3 linked regions of the Homo sapiens genome follow. The protein of the gene in region 1 interacts with the protein of each later gene in a pairwise test. Each region holds a gene or a part of one and is shown on either strand. Other genes may lie near its edges.

Region 1 (7,024 bases):
TAACTCTAGATTGGCAACAATCTTGATATAACACTATATGGGTCCCTACACCTGGCCAATGACAGTTGAGGGTGGAGCAGAGGGAAGAGTTCCGTGACCAACGACAGTCATGGCGGCAGCAGGAGGACTAGGGGAGATAGCAGCAGCCTCCAGGCATTTGAACCCCTGCTCCTCTGGGGGGCCTGCCAGGTCCCAGTCCACAGCACCCAGTGACTCACCACTTACCCCTCACCAGTCCACTTTTCCCAATAATCCTTTGTTTTTGAGGAGTCTCACTCTGTTGCCCAGGCTGGAATGCAGTGGCACAATCTAGGTTCACCTCAACCTTCACCTCCCGGGTTCAGGCGATTCTTCCGCCTCAACCTCCCTAGTAGCTGGTACTACAAGCATCTGCCACCACACCCGGCTAATTTTTCTATTTTGGTAGAGATGGGATTTCACCACGTTAGCCAGGCTGGCCTTGAACTCCTAACCTCAGGTGATCCGCCCACCTGGGCCTCTCAAAGTGTTGGGATTACAGGCATGAGCCACCATGCCCAGACTCCCAATATTCCTTCTAAGGTTGGGTGTGGTGGCTCACGCCTATAATCCCAGCACTTTGGGAGGCCCAGGCAGGCAGATCACCCGGGGTCAGGAGTTTGACACCAGTCTGGCCAACATGATGAAACCCCGTGTCTACTAAAAATACAAAAATTAGCCGGGCATGGTGGTGTGTGCCTATAGTCCCAGCTACTCGGGAGGCTGAGGCAGGAGAACTGCCTGAACCCGGGAGCGGAGGTTGCAGTGAGTCGAGATTGCGCCACTGCACTCCAGCCTGGGTGGCAGAGCAACACTCTGTCTCGGAAAAAAAAAAAAATCCTTTTAAAGCACAAACATGAGTACCCGCACCTGCTCGGTGATGTGCACTCCACCAAGCCTGCATCCAGGCTCTCGTGCCCCTGCCCAGCCAGCTCACTGACTGACCTCCATGCCCACGGTGACCCCAGTGCCCTGGGGAGGCCGTGCCCCATGCCACCTCGCCAGTGCTCCTGGGGCTGCCACTTCAGGTGTCTCCTGCACAGCCCGTGGCTGCCTGAGGCACAGTGCTGGATGGATATCCAGGAGGCCCTGCGGGTCTGGGTGGATGGGGGCATTCCAGGCAATGATGTCGATGGTATCAGCCACTGCGCTCCAGCACCTGCACTGCGCTGACTACTCTGAAAAGGACTTCACAGCCATCACCTCCACCAACTCTCACAACCACCCTCCAGGGAATGGCCTTATTTTACAGGAGAGGAAACTGAGGCACACCAAAGTAAATGCCTATGCCCCGATCCAGGGGTTGGCGGGCAGTGAAGCTGGCACTCTCAGCTTTCAGAAGTTGTATTTTCAGGGTGCAGAGCCCTTGTCCCAGCACAGGGCCTGTGTAGTGGACACTTAAGGGATGAATGAGCGAGTTCCCGCTGAGCCGGCTCCAGCACTTGCTCTGCCTGAGGGACTAGCCCTGGCCACAGTGACCCCGACTCTCACCTCAGGGAGGAGCCTGCCATTTCCAGGCCCACCCTGAAGGGACCTGTCTGGATGGTAAACTCCCTGTCCACCTTGTCCCCAGCTGCTAGTGCTTACTCAACAGACATCCCTGGATTCAGGATGGAGGGCTGTGGTCCTCAGGACCCTCCCAGCCCAGCTGTGACAGCACAGTTCGGCCAGAGGCCTGAGTTCTCCTCCAACCCAGCACCACCAGAAATCTAGGGACTTATCAGGCCTCCCACCCCGACCCAGGCACCGCTGACCTCCCCAAACATAACCATCCCACCCCTTCTGCCTGCATGACCACCACTTGACGGCAGGCCCCCCACACTCGACCGCAGGCGACCCCTGCTCGTTCCCTCTCCCCACAGCCATGCAGAGCTTGCTGAAGGGAAAATCAGAACCGCCCTCTCATCGGGTCAGCGCCTGGGACCCTCAATGACCTCCCACTCCCTACTTGCCCTGGCCAAGCTGGCCTTCTGTTTTCAGAACACACTAAGCTTGGGTCTACCCCAGCGACTTTGTCCTAATAACTCACTTTCTCATCCTCAGATCTCTTACTAAGCATTCACCTCACAGAAGGGCCTTCCCTGGCCTGCCTGGCTCAAGCAGCCCCCAGCCCCGCCTTTGTCCACCACTGTCTCCCTGTCTCCCTGAGCTGTGCGTTCTGACCTGCCGCCTGGAAGCATCTCTGTGACACAGCAATGAAGCACTGGAGGTACACACTCGTGGCCCTACAATGCTTCCTCTAGAACCTTCCCCCTAGGTTACCATGGGCACCTGAGGGCAGCACCTAGCATGGAACCTGGCCCTGGCAATAAACGCTCACAAGTATTAGCTGAAAAGCAAACCTCATTTTCACAAGGCCCCAGCTCCTCCCAGGCAGGAGGCTGCCGTACCTGTCAGGGCGTTAGACGAAGTGAAATCACTCCCACTCCGGCCCCTCCCAGCCACTCCTACGGGGTCCCTAAATCAGGAGGTGGGGGAAAGTGCAAGATCGCCCTGGGCAGGCAATGGGTGTGTATTTTCCCCTGTGTCAAGAGTGACGAAGGCACCACCACCTCACAAGGAAATACAACTGTTTCCCTTCCTTGCTCCGGGAACCTCTGTGTGCACAGTGGTAACTCCCCACCTCCCCACTTCTGCCCAGATGCTAGACCTCCTCAAGGGACCATCCCCTACTTCCCAGCCCGCTTGACAAGGAATGCGACAGGCCGACCACCAAGTGTCCATGTCACAGATGAGAAAACTCAGGCTCAGCAAAGGTGACTCACCAGCGTGCTGAGGGAAGCGGGAGGGGGAATGGATTTCCTGATCTGGGTGTACCTGGGACCAGAATAATCTCAAGGGGCAACCGCCAAATTTATCATGACTCTGCCAATTTCCGGCCTAAGGCTGTGGCGAGCAAAGCACCGAGACGTGGCAAGCACACACACACAGCCTCTTTCTCCGTGGGAGACCAAGCAGGCTGATAGGCTGCCCATGCCATGCCAGCAAAGCCAGTCCCAAGGAACCACACACTGCAGGCCTCCAACTATGTGAAGCATCCAGAACAGGCAAATCCATAGAGACAGAAAAGAGCTTACAGGCTTCCAGGAGCTGGCGGGGATTGGGCGAAGTTCCTGAAAGGAAAGGGTGATTAAAAAAAAGTTCCAAAATCAATTGTGGTGATGTTTCCACAACGTTGTGAATACACTAAGAACCACTGAATTGTACCCTTTATTTATTATTTTTTTTCTTGAGACAGAGTCTCTCTCTGTCACCCAGCCTGGAGTGCAGTGGCGCGATCTCGGCTCACCGCAACCTCCAGCTCCTGGGTTCAAGCATATCTCCTGCCTCAGCCTCCCGAGTAGTGGGGACTACAGGTGCGCACCACCATTCTTGGCTGATTTTTTTTTTTTTTTTTTTTGAGACAGAGTTTCGCTCTGTCACCCAGGCTGGAGTGCAGCGGCGCGATCTCGGCTCACTGCAATCTCCGCCTCCCGGTTTTAAGCAATTCTCCCACCTCAGCCTGAGTACCTGGGATTACAGGAGTGCGCCACCACACCCAGCTAATTTTTGTGTGTGTTTTTTTAGTAAAGACGGGGTTTCACCATATTGGCCAGGCTGGTCTCGAACTACTGACCTTGTGATCCGCCTGCCTGGGCCTCCCAAAGCACTGGGATTACAGGCATGAATCACCACGCCCGGCCTAATTTTTGCATTTTTTTAGTACAGACGGGGTTTCACCACGTTGGCCAGGCTGGTCTTGAATGCCTGACCTCAAGTGATCTGCCTGCCTCGGCCTCCCAAAGTGCTGGGCTTACAGGCGTGAGCCACTGCGCCTGGCTGTACACTCTAAATGGATGAACTGTACAGAATATCTCAATAAAAACTGTTGGGGGAAAAAAAAAAACCTGCCTCAGGCCATCGGCCATGGCAGGGACAGAGCCAGGGCCAGGCTCAGGCCTTGCACTATGTCCCAGCGTCCGCAGAGCTGATGAGATGCCGGCCAGCCTGGCAGAGCTGAAGCTGCCAAGGCTCAGCCCTGGGGCACTCACCCAGGTTACCCCTTCCCCATCCCTCACCACCAACAGCTCTAAGCTAAGTGAGCCCCTCCACAGTGGGGACGGGATAGGAGCAGCACCAAGCCAGCATCTGTAGAAAATCCATGGACCCGCACTTGCAGAGACACTTGTCTCGGCTCCACATCAAGACCAAGTAAAGAATTCTTATTATTCCGACAGAGTCTCATGTGGAAGAGGGGCCCAGAGGGGTGGAGCCACATGGCTAGCAAGAGGCTTCCAGTGTGCCCTGGTCTCTAAACAACAGGCAGAAATTCTCACACTGAGGCCCACCGTTCACTTCTAAGATACCTGATTAAAGGGCACAGGCATGGCCCTCGGCCCCCAAACCCCCTACCCCTGGTACAGACTAACCATCTGCTTCGGGGAAAAGGTCAGGCTTCCCCTCCAAACCGAGCTCCCCAGACAACTGGGGCAGGGGCAGCCAGAATGAGACGGGAGGGTGCTCGCTGGTGCACGGCATCCAAGAACTTCGGCCCTGAGAACCCAGGCAGCGCCCTGAACTCTCCATCTCAAGTGGCTCCTCTGAAAATCAGAATAGACTGAAAGGCTCAAATGCAATTGAGTGGTCGACACTCTACAGACCTCAATTATCAGGCTCTAAACAGAATGAAGATGCAAATATGGAAGAACAGAAAAAAAGAGAAAAAAACTTTCCCCCACCACAACCTCTGAATGCACTATGGCCTGAAGCCCTCTCAGTCCCCTCTCCCAACCTAATGAAGCCTGCTAGAATCCCTGCGAATGGAGCAGGAGAGTGGGTTTCACTCGCACTCTCCTGGTGAACCTGGGCAGGCGCTTGATTTCTCTGAGTCTCATTTCCTCATCCGTGAAAAGGAGACACAGCCCACCAGGGCGGGCTGCTGTGAAAAGGCATTGAGCTAAAGCAGGTGGCCGTGACACAGCAGGAGCTCAGCAGGTGCAAGTCTCTTCCGGTCCAACCCTGAGGCCACGTCCAGATGCTTTCTGGCAGGACAGGTAGGGGACCGGTCACTACCCCAAAGGTGATGGTGCTAAACACAGAGGAGCAGGAGAAAGACTCTACCCATTTGCCTAAGTGACTCAAGTACTTTTCCTCAGACCATTCGGATACTACGGCAGGCGCCATGCACCCCGCCACCCCCATTCTTTGCAACTTTTAGCAACTTCAAGAAAGCGGAAGTGACTACCACTAGTTTTTAGCTACCGTTTGAAAACCATGAGTCTGGCTGCAAACGGAAGAAGGGGAAATTGTAAATGAGAAAGGAAGCCATTAAAAACGAAAACTACCTCTGCCGCTCTCCCTCCACCAGCTCTGCACTATTGCCTCTGGTTTCTGACTTAGCTGTGGTGTTTTAGGGCCTTCAACACCAGCCACCCCTCAAGGGCCTGCCAGCCCCTTCCTTCCCCTGCTTGGACAGGCACTAACTGCGGCTCCCACAGAGCCATCCCCACTGCTGCACGTATCCGCCCAAGCACAGCTCTGCCGCCAGGGAACCGGTGGGCCCATGCTTCATCTGTCACCCCTTCCCAACCTGCGCTGACCCACGAGCACCCAGAAATGGAGGTCATGGGCACAGATGCCTCAGGGGGCCTCCAGAAACAGCTGCCTGAGCTGTCCCAATGCTCAGCAGAAGCTCCAACGCCTGGCCCCCTGGCCGGTACCCTAGGAAGGGAAAGAGCCTGCTACCAGCAGCAGGCTGGCCAGCACCCAGCTCCTTAAAGGGCCCAGAGTCCGGAGGACAGCAAGACCATCTCCCTCTAATGTCCCCCAAGCCTCTGTCAGCTCTCAGCCAAATCTGAAAGGGGGCTGGGAACACCCAATTCCAGGGATGCAGTGACAGTAATGGCAACCCCACCACCTCTGGGCAGGACCTACGGTGTGTGCCGGCTGCAGAATCCGGCATCACCCACCCAGCAAGGAGGAACCAGGGACACCAATTTGATAGAAAGGGCCACTGGGGCCAGAGGAGAAGGGGGAGCGGCCCAAGGCCCAACAAGATGATGAGCTAGGGCTTTCCTGTGGCTTGGGAAAGCCTTGGGGAGGGTCCCCACTTAAAGAGAACCCTCAGTGCCTCCCCCTCTGGCCCCAGAAGCACACCCTCCCAAGGGAGCTAGCAGCCCTGGTCCAACCCCAGAGGATGGAATAACTAGGAAACAGAAGAGTCTAGAAACACTGGCCAAGGACTGGGACGGGGACTTGAACATCCACATTCAAATCGTCTCCTGAACTGGCCACAGGTTTAAAGGAAAGAAAGGAAAAGACCAATGAACGGATTTGAAATAGCTCTTTGGAAAAACAGAAAGGGGCAGAGTTAGGGTTACAGTGTGATCCAAAGTCAGAAAAGCTTGCATTCCCATTTGACCTCCCCAAACTGAAATCTCTGTGGCCTAGACCAAGGATCTCACCCCACCGAGCCCCAGTTTCCTTATCCGGGAAATACCTCACAGATGGGGTTACTATAAGGCAGCACTCTCTGGAGAAGGACCCACAAAACTGGTGTGCAAAGGGAAAACCACGGTTTGGCATGGAAAGGCAGGTGAGCCCCATCAAGCCGGGTGCCGAGTGATTCCCACTCTGGCAAGGCCCCTCACTCTCACCAAAGCTCTCAGGCCTCTCTCACCTCATCTCTTGCTACCTCCCGCGTGGGCGTCACACCTGACTGCCCTCAGCCGGGGCTGGGCTGCTCCCTCCTCCTTCCCGGAGCTCTTCGAGTCTGACTAGCTCCTCCTGGGTCCTTCAGGCCCCCACACAGACACCACTTCCTCCAGGGAGCCTCCCCCCCGCATCTGTGTTAGAGGCCTGCTCCACGCCGCTTCCACAGCATCCCGCAGTCACCCTGGAACAGCATGTGAGCCTCGGCTCTGTGACAGGATGTACCTGTTCAGTCATCTGCCTCCCCCTGAAACATGCCGACTTCCCAGGATCTAGCATAAGGCCAGGCCCAACTAAAGCTACTTGTTGAATTAAT
Region 2 (7,024 bases), on another chromosome or scaffold:
CTCCCACAAAAAGGCAGAAGGAAGGATAACTTCACAAGTGCTGGCACCTTTGTTAGGGCCTGGGAACAGGTAGGACAAGGAAGGCAACAGAAAAAAGACGTGGGACTCACAGCTAAGTGCAAAGGGCTGACTGGAATGGTGCTCTCCACATCCTCCAGGCAGTTAAAGGACATTTCTAAGAGCTGCAAAGGACAGGAAAGTAGGTGCTGAGACTCTGGAACTCCCAAGATAGTACCCCAGTCCCCGACTCGCAGTAATCCCCACTAAGCCTCTGGATCCAAAGACCACATTTGATTGAACCCTTAGTTTTGGAATCCACAAACCCTGTGCCCTGCCCCTGCCTCCCCTCCTGCAGGCCGGGCCCCAACACATACCAGTTCGAGGTTCTGTCTGTTGCCATAGGCGGCTGCATAGTGCACAGCTGTGTAGCCCTGCCTGTCCCGCAGGGAGGGGTCTGCACCGTTATCCAGTAAGAACTCCAGACAGCTGGGGAGCCGGGGGTAGACTGTGAGGCAGGGACAGGCCCAGCCCAGGAGGGCACAGTTCTGGGAGGGCCAGAGGAGAGGACCAAGGCCCTCCAGGCCTACCTGGCCGCCACCCGTCCTCAGCTCTAGGTAGGTTCTCTAAATCCTACCCATTCTTCAATGGCAGCTCCAGACCCACTTTACCTTCTCAAGGTCTGCCCTGAACCCCTCTGGCTTCAATGCCCTCCTTTATCCTCTGAATGCTCTCCTAGAGAACCTAGAGCATGATGTTCAGTTATCAGCCTTCTGCTGACCAACATGCTTTCCCCACCTCCAGGCACGCCAACCCCTGCCCTAGGATGCTTTCTCCTCCCAGCCCACCCGAATAAGTCCTGTTCATCTCAAACTCAGTCCCAGCTTCTCTCCTCTGTGAGGCCTTTCCCAGCCTTCCCTGGGGAAGATGCCTCTTCCTCTGTGCTCCCTTGGCAGTCTTCTCATACCTTAGTAGTAGTTGTAGTAGTAGTAATAATAATAAAGTAGCACTTACTGTCAAGCACAGTTCTAAGTACTTCATGTATATTAAATAATTTAATCCTCATAAAGATCCCATGAAGTAGATACTATTTTTATCCTTACTGTGGGTGATGAAATTGAGGCATAGAGAAGTAACTTGCTGAAGGTAATAGCTGAGCCTCTTGGATTTTAGTGTCCTTTTTAAAAAAATAAATCTTAAAAAAAAATTATTTAATTTACTTATTTTAAATGGAGACAGGGGCCTGGCTCGGTTGCTCACATCTTTAATTCCAGCACTTTAGGAGGCTGAGGTGGGCAGATCACCCGCGGTCAGGAGTTCGTGGCCAGCCTCGCCAACATGGCGAAACCCTGTTTCTACTAAAAATACAAAAATTAGGCTGGGCGTGGTGGCTCACGCCTGCAATCCTAGCACTTTGGGAGGCCAAGGCAGGTGGATCGCCTGAGCTCGGGAGTTCAAGACCAGCCTGGGCAACATGGTGAAACCCCGTCTGTACTAAAATACAAAAAATTAGCCAGGCGTGGCAGCGTGCTCCTGTAGTCCCAGCTACTCAGGAGGCTGAGGCAGAATTGCTTGAACCCAGGAGGTGGAGGTTGCAGTGAGCCAAGTTCATGCCACTGCACTCCAGCCTGGGCAACAGAGTGAGACTCGGTCTTCAAAAAAACAATTAGCTGGGCGTGGTGATAGGCACCTGTAATCCCAGCTACTCAGGAGGAAGAGGCAGGAGAATCGCTTGAACCCCGGAGGTAGAGGTTGCAGTGAGCTGAGATCGCGCAACTGCACTAGAGCCTGGGTGACAGAGCAAGACTCCATCTCAAATAAATAAATAAATTAATTAATTTATTTATTTATTTAATTAAATAAAATAGAGATGAGTTCTCATTATGTGTTAGCCAGGCTGGTCTCATACTCCTGGGCTCAAGCAATCCTCCCACCTCAGTGCTGGAATTACAGGCATGAGTCACTGTGCCTACCTGATTTTTGTGGGTTTTTTTTTTTTTTAGAGACGGGGTCTCACTAGGCTGCCCAGGCTGGGGTGCAGTGGCTATTCATAGGCATGATCATAGTGCACTACAGCCTCAAACTCCTGGGTTTGCATGATCCTCTTGCCTTACCTGCACCTGCCTCCTGAATAACTGGGAATATATGCATGTGCCACCGTGCCCAGCAAAAAATAAACTTTTTGTTTTAGAATATTATTAGATTTATAGAAAAATTGTGGGCTAGGTGTGGTGGCTCATATCTGTAATCCCAGCACTTTGGGAGTCTGAGGCAGGAGGATTGCTTGAGCCCAGGAGTTCGAGACCAGTGTGGGCAACACAGAGAGATCCCTGACCTACAAAATAAATTAATTAAAAAAAAAAAAAAAGAAAGAAAAAGAAAAATTGTGAAGATAGTACAGGGAGTTCTCACATAACCTATACCTAGTTTCCCGTCATTAACATCTTACATTAGTATGCATAAGTGTCCTTTTATTTATCTTTCCCAATAGATTATTAGCTTTCGAAAGACAGAAATTTGGGACAATTCATCCTTTTTAAATTTTTATTTAATTTTATTTATTTATTTGTTTTTTTGGAGACAGAGTCTCACTCTGTCGCCCAGGTTGGAGTGGATTAGTGTGATCTTGACTCACTGCAACCTCCACCTCCCTGGTTCAAGTGATTCTCCTGCCTTAGCCACCCGAGTAGCTGGGATTACAGGTGCCTGCCAACATGACCAGCTAATTTTTATATTTTTAGTAGAGACGGGGTTTCACCACGTTGGCCAGGCTGGTCTCGAACTCCTGACCTCAGATGATCTGCCTGCCTCGGCCTCCCAAAGTGCTGGGATTATAGGCGTGAACCACCACACCCGGCCTATTTTTAATTTTAATTTTTTTGAGACAGAGTCTTGTTCGGTTGCCCAGGCTGGAGTGCAGTGGCGTGATCTCGGCTCACTACAACCTCCACCTCCCTGGTTCAAGCAATTCTCCTGCCTCGGCCTCCTGAGTAGCTGGGATTATAGGCGTGTGCCACCACACCTGGTTAATTTTTTGTATTTTTAGTAGAGACGGGGTTTCACCATGTTGGTCAAGCTGGTCTTGAACTCCTAACCTCAGGTGATCTGCCTACCTCAGCCTCCCTAAGTGCTAGGATTACAAGCTTGAGCCACTACGCCCAGCCTCATCTTTTATCCTTAGTATCTAGCACAGTACTTGGAACCTAGTAAGTAAATATTTAATTAATGCTTGTGGAATAAACAAATTATTTTGTACATTTAGCTTTTCTAATCCTCTCAAGAAGACCAGCCGGGCGCGGTGAGCTGAGATCACACCACTGCATTCCAGCCTGGGCAACAGAGTGAGACTCTGTCTCCAAAAAAAAAAAAAAAAAAAAAATCCATTCCTTTAGGGAAGGAACTATGTCTCATACTTTTGGGTTTTTTTTTCCCCCTGAAGCTCCTGAGCTTCAATCTCATACTTTTGTCTTTGCCCACTATGGACTACACCCAGAGGGCTCAAGACACACTGCTGGCTGACCGGCAGGACAGCAGCAGTATAGGGTAGAGGTTCAGATTAGGTAGGAGGACAGTAGGGCCAGAGCTTGCATGGGTTGGGGAAAGCACATCCCAGGGGCCCTCTCTGCTACTCACAAGAAGGCCTCCTTCCTGCGGGACTCCTTCAGTGGCTCGTCCTCTTCGGCATCATGGCTGGAAGGTGTATGGGGTTCCGCTCTGGGGAAGAGAGAGAGAAAGTTAGGGCCAGGCTCAGGGAGGTGAATGGGGCTGAGAAGGACCAGACTGGTAGCCTCACCTCCTGTAAGTGTCAGAAGCGGCAGCGTAGTGGAGGGGAGAGCAGCCTTTACAGTCGGCCTCGTTGACACCTGCCCCAGCAGTCACCAATGTTACTGCACACTGGTAGCTACCGTTAGCAGCTGCATAGTGCAGTGGGGTCCTGGGGAAGAAGTGAAGGAGGGTGGGGAAGAGAATCAGAGACAGATACGAATGCAATCAGATGTGCAGCCAAATGCTGCTTTGTAACATTCTCCTTATTTAAGTCTCCAATCTAAACCCTTCCTCCCTCTACCATTTGTTTCTCTAATCAGATATTCCCTATGTTTACCCCTGCATATTAGCATACCTGCCAAATTTGTCCCTCCTCCTCAAGTCAGCTCCACTGCTCAACAGCAAATTAAGACATTCAACATTCCTAAAAGAAAGATGTGTTAAGAGAGTTACAGCCTCAAAGGGAAGCCACAGGCCCAGGGTGGGGCTAAGGAAGGATGGGACTAGCAAGCCCTTTCTGCTGTGACTGCTTTCATTGTGAGAGGGGGAATAGATCTGGGCAGGCAAGAATGAGGGGCCCAGACCTTTGCCCAGCTCCCTGCTCAAAGCATGGGAGAGAGAAAGAGAACTCACCCTCCGGAAGCAGCAGCATGAAGACAGGTACGGCCAAGGTTGTCAGGTGTATTGATGTCAAACCCAGCTGAAAGCACATGCTCATTGCTGAGTGAAGACACAATGCTGTACAACTGACCTGGAGGCACAGAACAGCCACAGGTCACATCTGAGAGTGTTCAGCAGGGAGGGAAAGGCCTTTGCTCTCCTATACACCTGCCAATCCCCAGCCCATCAGCACATACCTGAGGAAAGAAGCTTACGACAACAGTCAGAGAATCCAAAGAGAACAGCTAAGTGCAGGGGGAACATGTCATGGATGCCACGCCTAGAGAGAAGTTGAGGGACTCAGTCCTTGGGTCAAGGAGGGACCAAGTAAGACCTCTTCTGTGACCTACCACCACCCTAGAGTCAGGGTAGGAGGTTCTCCAAGGTGCCCTTTGGCAAGCTTATCTGTGCCTCCATGGTTGATGTGAGCAGTCTGTGCAGATCTGGGCAGCCCAGAAGTGGAGTCGGGGCCCTGACTCACCGGGCGGTATCTGCGCCATTGGTCATGAGGGTGCTGATGAGCAGCTCGTGTCCATATCGAGCAGCCACATGCAGTGGCGTGTTCCCAAATTTGTCGGCACAATCAATCTCGCTGCCTGTGAGGGGATGCACACACACAAGCTCAGGCAGACCTCAGGCTTAAGACCACTTTCGCGAGCTAGCCATGATTTGAGTGCCTACTATGTATGCATCAGGTGCCAGGCCCAGGATTCTACATATTTTATCCTGTTTCTAGGCCTTAGGAGACTGGGCAGGGCAGAGCAGGGCCATTTCCACAGGTCCCTTGGTCAGAGTTCCAAGGGCCTATCCTACTGGAAGAGGGCAGGAGAAGGAAGTTAGGAACCTCCCTAGATTCTAGAAATGAGTTCCTTGGGGGAGGAGGGGATGAGAGCACAAAGTCTCCCAGGTCCATACCATTCTGGATGAGGATCTGGGAGCGTGTGAAACGGCCATGGATTGCAGCCATGTGCAGAGGACTTTTCCCTTCTTTGCTCTGTGGAAACATGGTGGGTTTTTGTTTTTGTTTTTTTTTCCAGTGCAAAGCACAGAGAATGCCCTACCTCCCTTCCAAGGACATATCTCTAAGGACAAAAGGGTCATATGGCACCTTCTTAGCCCACTCTTTCCTGAGTCCCTGGCAAGGTCTGATTACCCTAGGAAGCAAGTGGATAATTCCCCAAGAGAGCTATCCAGATACAGTCAGGACCCCTAGATCCAAGTTTCGCTCCCCACTGGTCTAAGCCTTATCCCTTCAGGCACCTGGTAGTTGACGTCAGCCCCATTATTAACCAGTAGCTCCAAGCAGAGAGCGCCATTGGTGGAGACTGCAGCCACATGCAGTGGCGTGAAGCCCTTGTCATTCGGCTGGTTGACATTGGCTCCGGCATTCACCAGCTCAATAGCCACAGCATCCTGGCCCAGGTAGCAGGCGATGTGCAAAGCTGTGTTTCCAAAAGCATTGGGTTCATCGATCTGGATATTCAGGGGTGAGAGTAAGGTGGTATCAGTTTAAACAAAGTAGAAGCCAGCACATGTAGCCTCCAGATCCCAGAAATCCAACGACTGCCTCATTTCCTCTCGGGTTTATGACCCAAGGTACTAAGGTACTAAGGGCACTATGGCTAAGGTAAGCATTATTCAGACCCTCTCTACCACGTCCTTCCAACTTCCCAAAACTATACCAACATCCCAATACCTCATATCTCCGTAACAGACTATAATCTCCTACTTGCTGCCCATAGTTCCCAACCCCAGAGCTCAAAGCCCTGACCTCCGCTCCCATCCGAAGCAGGTACTTCACCACTTCAATCTGGCCACTGGCAGCAGCTGTATGGAGCAGCCCATAGCCCTTGCGGTCCTTGCAGCCGAGGTCTGCTCCCCGTGCCACCAGCAGTTTTAGGACCTCCAAGTGCCCTGAGAAAAGAGAAGACACTCTAAAGGAAGTAGAAGGTAAACTCTAAGACCCTACACTCCTCTCTTCAAAGGCTGCAACCCCACATCCCTGCCCTAGGAATCCTAAATGTCAAATTTCTGATTTTCCCGTGTATTCTCTCTCACCTAGAAAAGCTGCCCAATGCAGAGGCTGCCGCTCCTTTTTGTCACAGACATTCAGGCTGGCTCCCTTGTTGAGGAGCAGGTTCACCGTCTGCATCAGGATATGAAAGACACCTGTTCAGAGCTAGATTCGTGCCCTCAACCTACCTAAGAGCAGAGGCCTCATCTCCTGAAAAGGCTGAGGCAGCCTAATGCCTTTTTCCATGAGCAAAACAACCTGGAGGACTCGAGGGAACAGCAGAAGCAGGCACTAAGGAGGAGATACTGGAGAGATTTGGAACTTTAAGGGAAACAAGAGAGTCTCTTCAGGTGATCTGGTGGTTCTTAAACTCTTTTTTTTTTTTTTTTTGAGACAGTCTCGCTCTGTTACCCAGGCTGGAGTTCAGTGGCATGATTTCGGCTCATTGCAAGCTCCGCCTCCCGGGTTCACGCCATTCTCCTGCCTCAGTCTCCCGAGTAGCTGGGACTACAGGCGGCCGCCACCACACCCGGCTAATTTTTTGTATTTTTAGTAGAGACAGGGTTTCACCATGTTAGCCAGGATGAT
Region 3 (7,024 bases), on another chromosome or scaffold:
TGCCACCACACCCAGCTAATTTTTATATTTTTAGTAGAGATGGGGTTTCACCACGTTGGCCAGGCTGGTCTCGAGCTCCTGACCTCAGGTGATCCACCCGCCTCAGCCTCCCAAAGTGCTAGGATTACAAGTGTGAGCATCACACCCAGCCCGAATATAATTTTTTAAAACAACTATTGCAACATAATTCACCTACATAAAATGCATCCCTTTGAAGGGTAAGAGTCAATGGTTTTCATTATATTCACAGTGGTGGCAACCATCACCATAATCAATTTTAGGACACTTTCATCACCCCAAAAAGAAACCATATACACATTAGCAGTCACTCCCCTCATCCCCATACCAACACCCCACAGCCCTATGTATTACCTCATAAATAATAATAATCACAACCTTGACCACAACCACTCAATCCAGTTAGTCCTTGTGGATAGACGGCTGTCTTTCCAGTCAATTTCAAAATATCAGTGTTGCACAGCATCCTACTTCTATTAATAATCCATTAGACCTATGATACATATTTATTTTTATAATAATTAGCATCCAAAGTTTGCAACCTATTTGCATTAAAGAACAAATATGCCAGGAACTGATGAATGATTCTAAGTTTGGCCTGTAATTTTTTCTTTTTTTGAGATGGAGTTTCGCTCTTGTCACCCAGGCTGCAGTGCAATGGCGTGATCTTGGCTCACTACACCCTCCGCCTCCCAGGTTCAAGCGATTCTCCTGCCTCAGCCCCCCAGTAGCTGGGATTACGGCACACGCCACCATGCCTGGTTAATTTTTGTATTTTTAGTAGAGACAGGGTTTCGCCATGTTGGCCAGGCTGGTCTCAAACTCCTGACCTCAGGTGATACACCCACCTTAGCCTCCCAAAGTGCTGGGGTTACAGGCGTGAGCCACTGTGTCTGGCCGGTTCCCATATTTCAATGTGCCAGAATTTTCGCTGACATGTAACTGGTTCTCCTAGTCCATAAGGCCTCCTAAACTTGAAGTCATCCCTGGTTATCACCCCATACACTATGTGCTAGCCTGAAAATAACAGTGGACTATAAACTGAAGAACATCGCTGTGAAACTCTGTCAATCTGAAAGATTGAGTGTCTGGAGAACACGTGTAAACTACCTAGCAGCAGCCTTCAACCAGGGCCCAGGCACACTAACTAGAGTAAAATTACAGCTGCGTCCTACGACTGCCACCTCTGCTGACCCCAACTGAGGATTTAGAGAGCTATGTCTCTAAGCCAAAGCTATTGCCTCTCATCTCTAGTTTGGCAGTAGCTTACAAATCGCTATCACGCGCACACAAAAATAAGAAGTCTATGCAATCTCACTATAAACGCTACGTGACTCAATCAACTACACTCACAGCGGCCTCAAAGAGCCCTGCCTTGTCATCATAGTAAAGACACATGCTCCTCTCCTCCCAAACCCTTTACAGCTTTATCCCAAATTTAGGGTAAACTATACCCCTTTCTCCTCATCGTGCCCAAATATTTTTTCTTTCTTTTTTTGTGTTCTGTTTTCTATTTATTTATTTTTTATTATACTTAAGTTCTGGGACACATGTGCAGAACGTGCAGGTTTGTTACTTAGGTATCCACGTGCCATGGTGGTTTCCTGCACCCATCAACCCATCATCTACAATCGGTATTTCTCCTAATGATATCCCTCCCTTTACCCCGGACCCCCTGACAGGCCCCAGCATGTGATGTTCCCCTCCCCTCTGCCCATATGTTCTCATTGTTCAACTCCCGCTTACGAGTGAGAACATGCGGTGTTTCGTTTTCTGTTCCTGTGTTAGTTTGCTGAGAATGATGGTTTCCAGCTTCATCCATGTCCCTGCAAAGTATTCCATGGTGTATATGTGCCACATTTTCTTTAACCAGTCTATCATCGATGGGCATTTGAGCTAGTTCCAAGTCTTTGCTATTGTGAATAGTGCTGCAGTAAACATGCAAGTGCATGCATCTTTATAGTAGAATGATTTATAATCCTTTGGGTATATACCCAGTAATGGGATTGCTGGGCCAAATGGCATTTCTAGTTCTAGATCCTTGAGGAATCGCTACACTGTCTTCCACAACAGTTGAACTAATTTGCACTCCCACCAACAGTGTAAAAGTGTTCCTATTTCTCCAAATCGTCTCCAGCACCTGTTGTTTCCTAACTTTTTAATGATTGCCATTCTAACTGGCGTGAGATGGTATCTCATTGCGGTTTTGATTTGCATTTCTTTAATGACCAGTGCTCTTTTTCATATGTTTGGTGCCCAACTACTTTCTAATCCTTGAACAGGAAGGGGTTCATAGCCATCATTCTTAGCAGACCTCTATGTCTCTTCTCTACCTTTTCCTCAAGACATTTGTTCACAGTTCCATTCTATTCTCTGTTCTGTCTCCCAGTTCCCTCTTGCCCTCACAAACACTGGGTTCTAAACTTTTAAAATTACTTGTTTAGTTGATCTTGTTATCTAAAACATACTACTTCCTTTATCTACTTTTACATACTGGTATTTATAAAACACTCTTAGCTTTAAAAAAAAAGATCTCACTGCCAGGTGTGGTGGCTCACACCTGTAAAATGAGCATTTTGGGAGGCCAAGGCAAGAAGATGGCTGGAGGCCCAGAGCTCAAGACTAGCTTGGGCAACATAGCAAAACCTCATCTCAACTAGCTAGCTAAGTAACTAACTAAATAAATATCTAGCTAACATTATATTTCACACAGTCTTTATATAAAGTCTCTACTATAATACAGATCACTGGGAATGAGAAGTTAGAAATCTGGAATGACCATGATATTCACACGCTTATGATCCAGAAGGTAGTATCTGTATCCTCAGGCCAGATCAGAGTTTCTCAACCATGGCACTACTAATTATTCATTGCAGGGGACTGCTTGCTGTCTTGTGGATGTTTAGCAAAATCTCCGACATCTACGCCTACTAGATACCCATAGTAACTTCCCACCCCTCCCCTGACCCAGCTGTGACAACCAAAAATGTCTCCAGACACTGCCAAAAATTCTTTGGGGGGCAAAATTGCCCCCAGTTGAGAACGACTGGTCTAGATCTTTCTCCTGCGTTTAATACTATTAGAACAGTGTTTAGAGCACATTTGGCAATCAACAAGTAGTTGTTATCTAAGTAACATAAGTATCCAAGAGTAATTCTGGACACCTCTATCTCAATGTCTTAGCTTGGCAGCATCTCAAACTCAATATGGCCCAAACCAAACTTCCCGTATTCCTTAATCTAGTTATAGTACTAAGTAATCCTTGCCAGAAACTAAAAAATTATGCTAAACTCTCTTCATCATAACCTAGACCAAATCTGTTAACAGGTGCCACTATACCTTCTTCATTTCCTTTCCAACACAACAATCACTTATCATTGCCTTATCTCAGACTCTCATATCACCGGGCCTACTGCTTCTATGACATTTTTCCTGCATTCCAATCCATGGTCCACAATGCTGCCAGAATAAACATTTCAAAAGCCTACTGTCATTCTCCTTCTTAAAAACTCCTCAAGCGTATTCCTCCATTTATGGCAGTGTTTCCCAAACACCAAATACCATTTTCATTATTTTGTCATATTCCTACCACATACAACAGTGTATCCCTGTAATAATTTTCTTTGAATCTACTTTTATTTTTAGTTAGCTACATTTTAAACAGTATCACGAATCACAGTATGATTTTTCCCTAAAATATAAAAACATTTCATAGTGTTCATGCACCACCTAAAAAATAACAATCTAAGTTTAACAGCCTACTCTTCTATGATTTGGCATCTTTCTTTCCAGTACCACCTCCAGCCATACCAAACCACTTCAAGTTCCCCGAACCAGCCATGTTCTTGCAAATTACATTATACTATTGCACATGGTGTTTATTCTGTTTGCATGTTCTTTCCTTCTCATTTTGTCTACCTGAACTCTGCCCCTCGTAACTGCTCCTTTATGAAATCATCTCTGACTCTAAAGTTACATACTGCTTCTTCTGTTTGCCAACACCCTGGTCAGCCTCTATTACAGTCTTTGTTTACCTCCTTACCTCCCTTACTATATTGAAAGCCCCTCAAAGGCAGACACAAGTATCCAATTCTGCCCCTGGCACCCACAGGGAACAGTACTCAACACAAGGAACCATGTAAATAAGTGTTTGTTGGCTGGGCACAGTGGCTCACACCTATAATCTCAGCATTTTGGGAGGCCAAGGCAGGAGAATCACCTGAAGCATTTGGGACCAGCCTGGACAGCATAGCAAGACGCTATCCCTTAAAAAAATTTTTTTTTTGCCAGGCGCGGTGGCTAACGCCTATAATCCCTGCACTTTGGGAGGCCAAGGCGGGTGGATCACGAGGTCAGGAGATTGAGACCATCCTGGCAAACACAGTGAAACCCCATCTTTACCAAAAATACCAAAAAACTAGCCAGGCATGGTGGCATGCATCTGTAGTCCCAGCTACTTGGGAGGCTGAGGCAGGAGAATTGTTTGAACCCAGGAGGCAGAGGTTGCAGTGAGCCGAGATCGCGCCATTACACTCCAGCCTGGTGACAGAGTGAGACTCCATCTCAAAAATAAAAATAATAATTAATCAGCTGGGCACACTATTGCACACCTGTACTCCCAGCTACTTTTGAGGCTGAGGCAGAAGGATCAATTGAGCCCAGGAGTTTGAGGTTGCAGCAAGCTACAACTGCACCACTGCACTCCACCCTGGGCAGCAGACTGAGACCCTACCTCAAAGAAAAAAAAAAAAAGAAGAAGAAGAAACAAGTATTTGTCATAAAGCAGTAAACAGTTTGAGTCAATAAACCTTTACTGATTATCACATACAGGGCAGTGTTCTAAAATTGTGGAAAACACAAATAAGGAATGGCCAAACACAGTGGCTCACATCTGTAATCCCAACACTTTGGGAGGCCGAGGTGGGCGGATCACCTGAGGCCAGAAGTTCGAGACCAGCCTGGCCAACATGGTGAAACCCCATCTCTACCAAAAAATATATATATACAAAAATTAGCTGGGTGTGGTAGTGCGCACCTGTAATCCCAGCTGAGGCAGAACTGCTTGAACCCAGGAGGTGGAGACTGCAGTGAGCTGAGATGGTACCACTGTACTCCAGCCTGGGCAATAGAGTTAGATTCAGTCTCAAAAAAAAAAAAAAAAAAAAAACCTCAGGTAAACATGTCACCCTTAAGAACTGTCCAAGAGATTAGACAACCTCCAAGTTATAGAACCCCTGCTCCCCAAAAATATTAATACTTAAATATAAGTATTCAGTAAACCTGCCTTTATCATTAATTCTTCCATTTAGCCAGGTATGGAATCTGTATCTTTTATTAATCTCTCTGAAATCTTTCTTGTGGATAAAATCACATGAGCTCTTTATAAGAAAGGTTACACTGTGGTCCATTTACTTTCACATATGTCATTTTTTTTTTTTTTTGAGACAGGGTCTCGCTCTGTTGGCCAGGCTGGAGTGCAGTGGCATGATCTCGGCTCACTGCAACCTCCATCTCCCAGGCTCAAGCAATTCTCCTGCCTCAGCCTCCCGGCCCACATATGTCATTCTTATTCCTTCAAAACTGTTATGTATGCCAGGCATGGTGGCTCACGCCTGTAATCCCAGCACTTTGGGAGGCTGAGAAGGGTGGATCACCTGAGGTCAGGAGTTTGAGACCAGCCTGGCCAACATGGTGAAACCCCATCTCTACTAAAAATACAAAAATTAGCCAGGAGTGGTGGTGGGTGCCTGTAATCCCAGCTACTCAGGAGGCTGAGGCAGGAGAATCGCTTGAATCCGGGAGGCGGAGGTTGCAGTGAGCTGAGAACGTGCACCTGCACTCTAGCCTGGGCAACAGAGCAAGACTCCGTCTCAAAAAAACAAACTAACAGGCCAGGCTCACACCTATAATCCCAGCACTTTGGGAGGCCGAGGTGGGTGCATCATCTGAGGTGAGGAGTTCGAGACCAGCCTGAACAACATGGGGAAACCTGGTCTCTACTAAAAATACAAAATTAACTGGGCGTGGTGGCACATGCCTGTAATCACAGCTACTCAGGAAGGCTGAGGCAGGAGAATCGCTTGAACCCGGGAGGCAGAGGTTGCAGTGAGCCAAGCTCACGCCATTGCACTCCACCCTGAGCAACAAGAGCGAACAAACAAACAAAAACAGTTATGTAGATTTGATCCAGTACTAGTGATGTGACCATTTCCAACTTAGCGAAACAGAAATTGTGATTAAATCTGGAACATCGTATGCATTTAGTATTTTATCTTCTAATCAATTTAAAACACAAGTAAATTTCTGTCTTCTTTTCTACAGAACAAATCTTTTCCATCTTGCTCATTAAGTGGCCTCAATGATTACTTTTCTTAATAGAATGTTTTATTTTGCCTTTACAGCCTCAGAAAAAGTACTCCTGGCATACTTTCTTGGCCTAATTTTAGGTTGCACTTCATGCCAAGAAACAGAAAAAAATTAAATTTCTTTAAATACACCAGAGATGAGCAACACAACAAATTAATCTGATAAAAGCATTTCCAAGACAGAAAAAAAAGTCTCTACCTATAAAGAAAAATTCAGAATACTTTTGTCTTGGTTGCCCAAAACATATATTTTTAAGTTTATTAAGAAATGGATACAGGCCAAGTATAGTGGCTCATGCCTGTTATCCCAGCATTTTGGGAAGCCAAGGTGGGAGGATCGCTTGAGCCCAGGAGTTCAAGACTGGCCTGGGTAACATAGCAAGACCCTGTCTCTACCAAAAAAATAAATAAAAATTAGCTGGTCATGGGGGCATGTGCCTGTGGTCCCAGCTTCTCAGGAGGCTAAGGTGGGAGGACTGCCTGAGCCCAGGAGGTCGAGGCTGCAATGAGCCATGATTGTGCCACCACACTACAGCATGGGTGAGAGTGAGACCATGTCCCCGCTCCCCCACCAAAAAAAAGATTAAAAATTTTTTTAAGAAAAAAAAAGAAACAAATACAAGTCAAGTACAATGCAGCTA

What was found.
Region 2: the proteins of PPP6R1 (region 1) and ANKRD52 interact in binary tests that used the Homo sapiens proteins (3 or more experiments, as listed by UniProt).
Region 3: the proteins of PPP6R1 (region 1) and PPP6C interact in binary tests that used the Homo sapiens proteins (3 or more experiments, as listed by UniProt).

Annotation. Positions count from the first base shown.
Region 1 is NC_000019.10:55,248,999-55,256,022, forward strand, and holds part of PPP6R1 (serine/threonine-protein phosphatase 6 regulatory subunit 1), read right to left. Parts: intron 6,776-7,024; exon of another isoform or gene 6,677-6,775; intron 4,594-6,676; exon of another isoform or gene 4,431-4,593; coding exon of another isoform or gene 4,428-4,430; intron 3,132-4,427; coding exon of another isoform or gene 3,096-3,131; intron 1-3,095. UniProt on the Homo sapiens protein: Regulatory subunit of protein phosphatase 6 (PP6). May function as a scaffolding PP6 subunit. Involved in the PP6-mediated dephosphorylation of NFKBIE opposing its degradation in response to TNF-alpha.
Region 2 is NC_000012.12:56,248,385-56,255,408, forward strand, and holds part of ANKRD52 (serine/threonine-protein phosphatase 6 regulatory ankyrin repeat subunit C), read right to left. Parts: intron 6,569-7,024; coding exon 6,481-6,568; intron 6,337-6,480; coding exon 6,194-6,336; intron 5,896-6,193; coding exon 5,683-5,895; intron 5,417-5,682; coding exon 5,338-5,416; intron 5,019-5,337; coding exon 4,904-5,018; intron 4,703-4,903; coding exon 4,620-4,702; intron 4,514-4,619; coding exon 4,396-4,513; intron 4,187-4,395; coding exon 4,118-4,186; intron 3,932-4,117; coding exon 3,791-3,931; intron 3,712-3,790; coding exon 3,631-3,711; intron 487-3,630; coding exon 375-486; intron 183-374; coding exon 111-182; intron 1-110. UniProt on the Homo sapiens protein: Putative regulatory subunit of protein phosphatase 6 (PP6) that may be involved in the recognition of phosphoprotein substrates.
Region 3 is NC_000009.12:125,179,804-125,186,827, forward strand, and holds part of PPP6C (serine/threonine-protein phosphatase 6 catalytic subunit), read right to left. Parts: intron 1-7,024.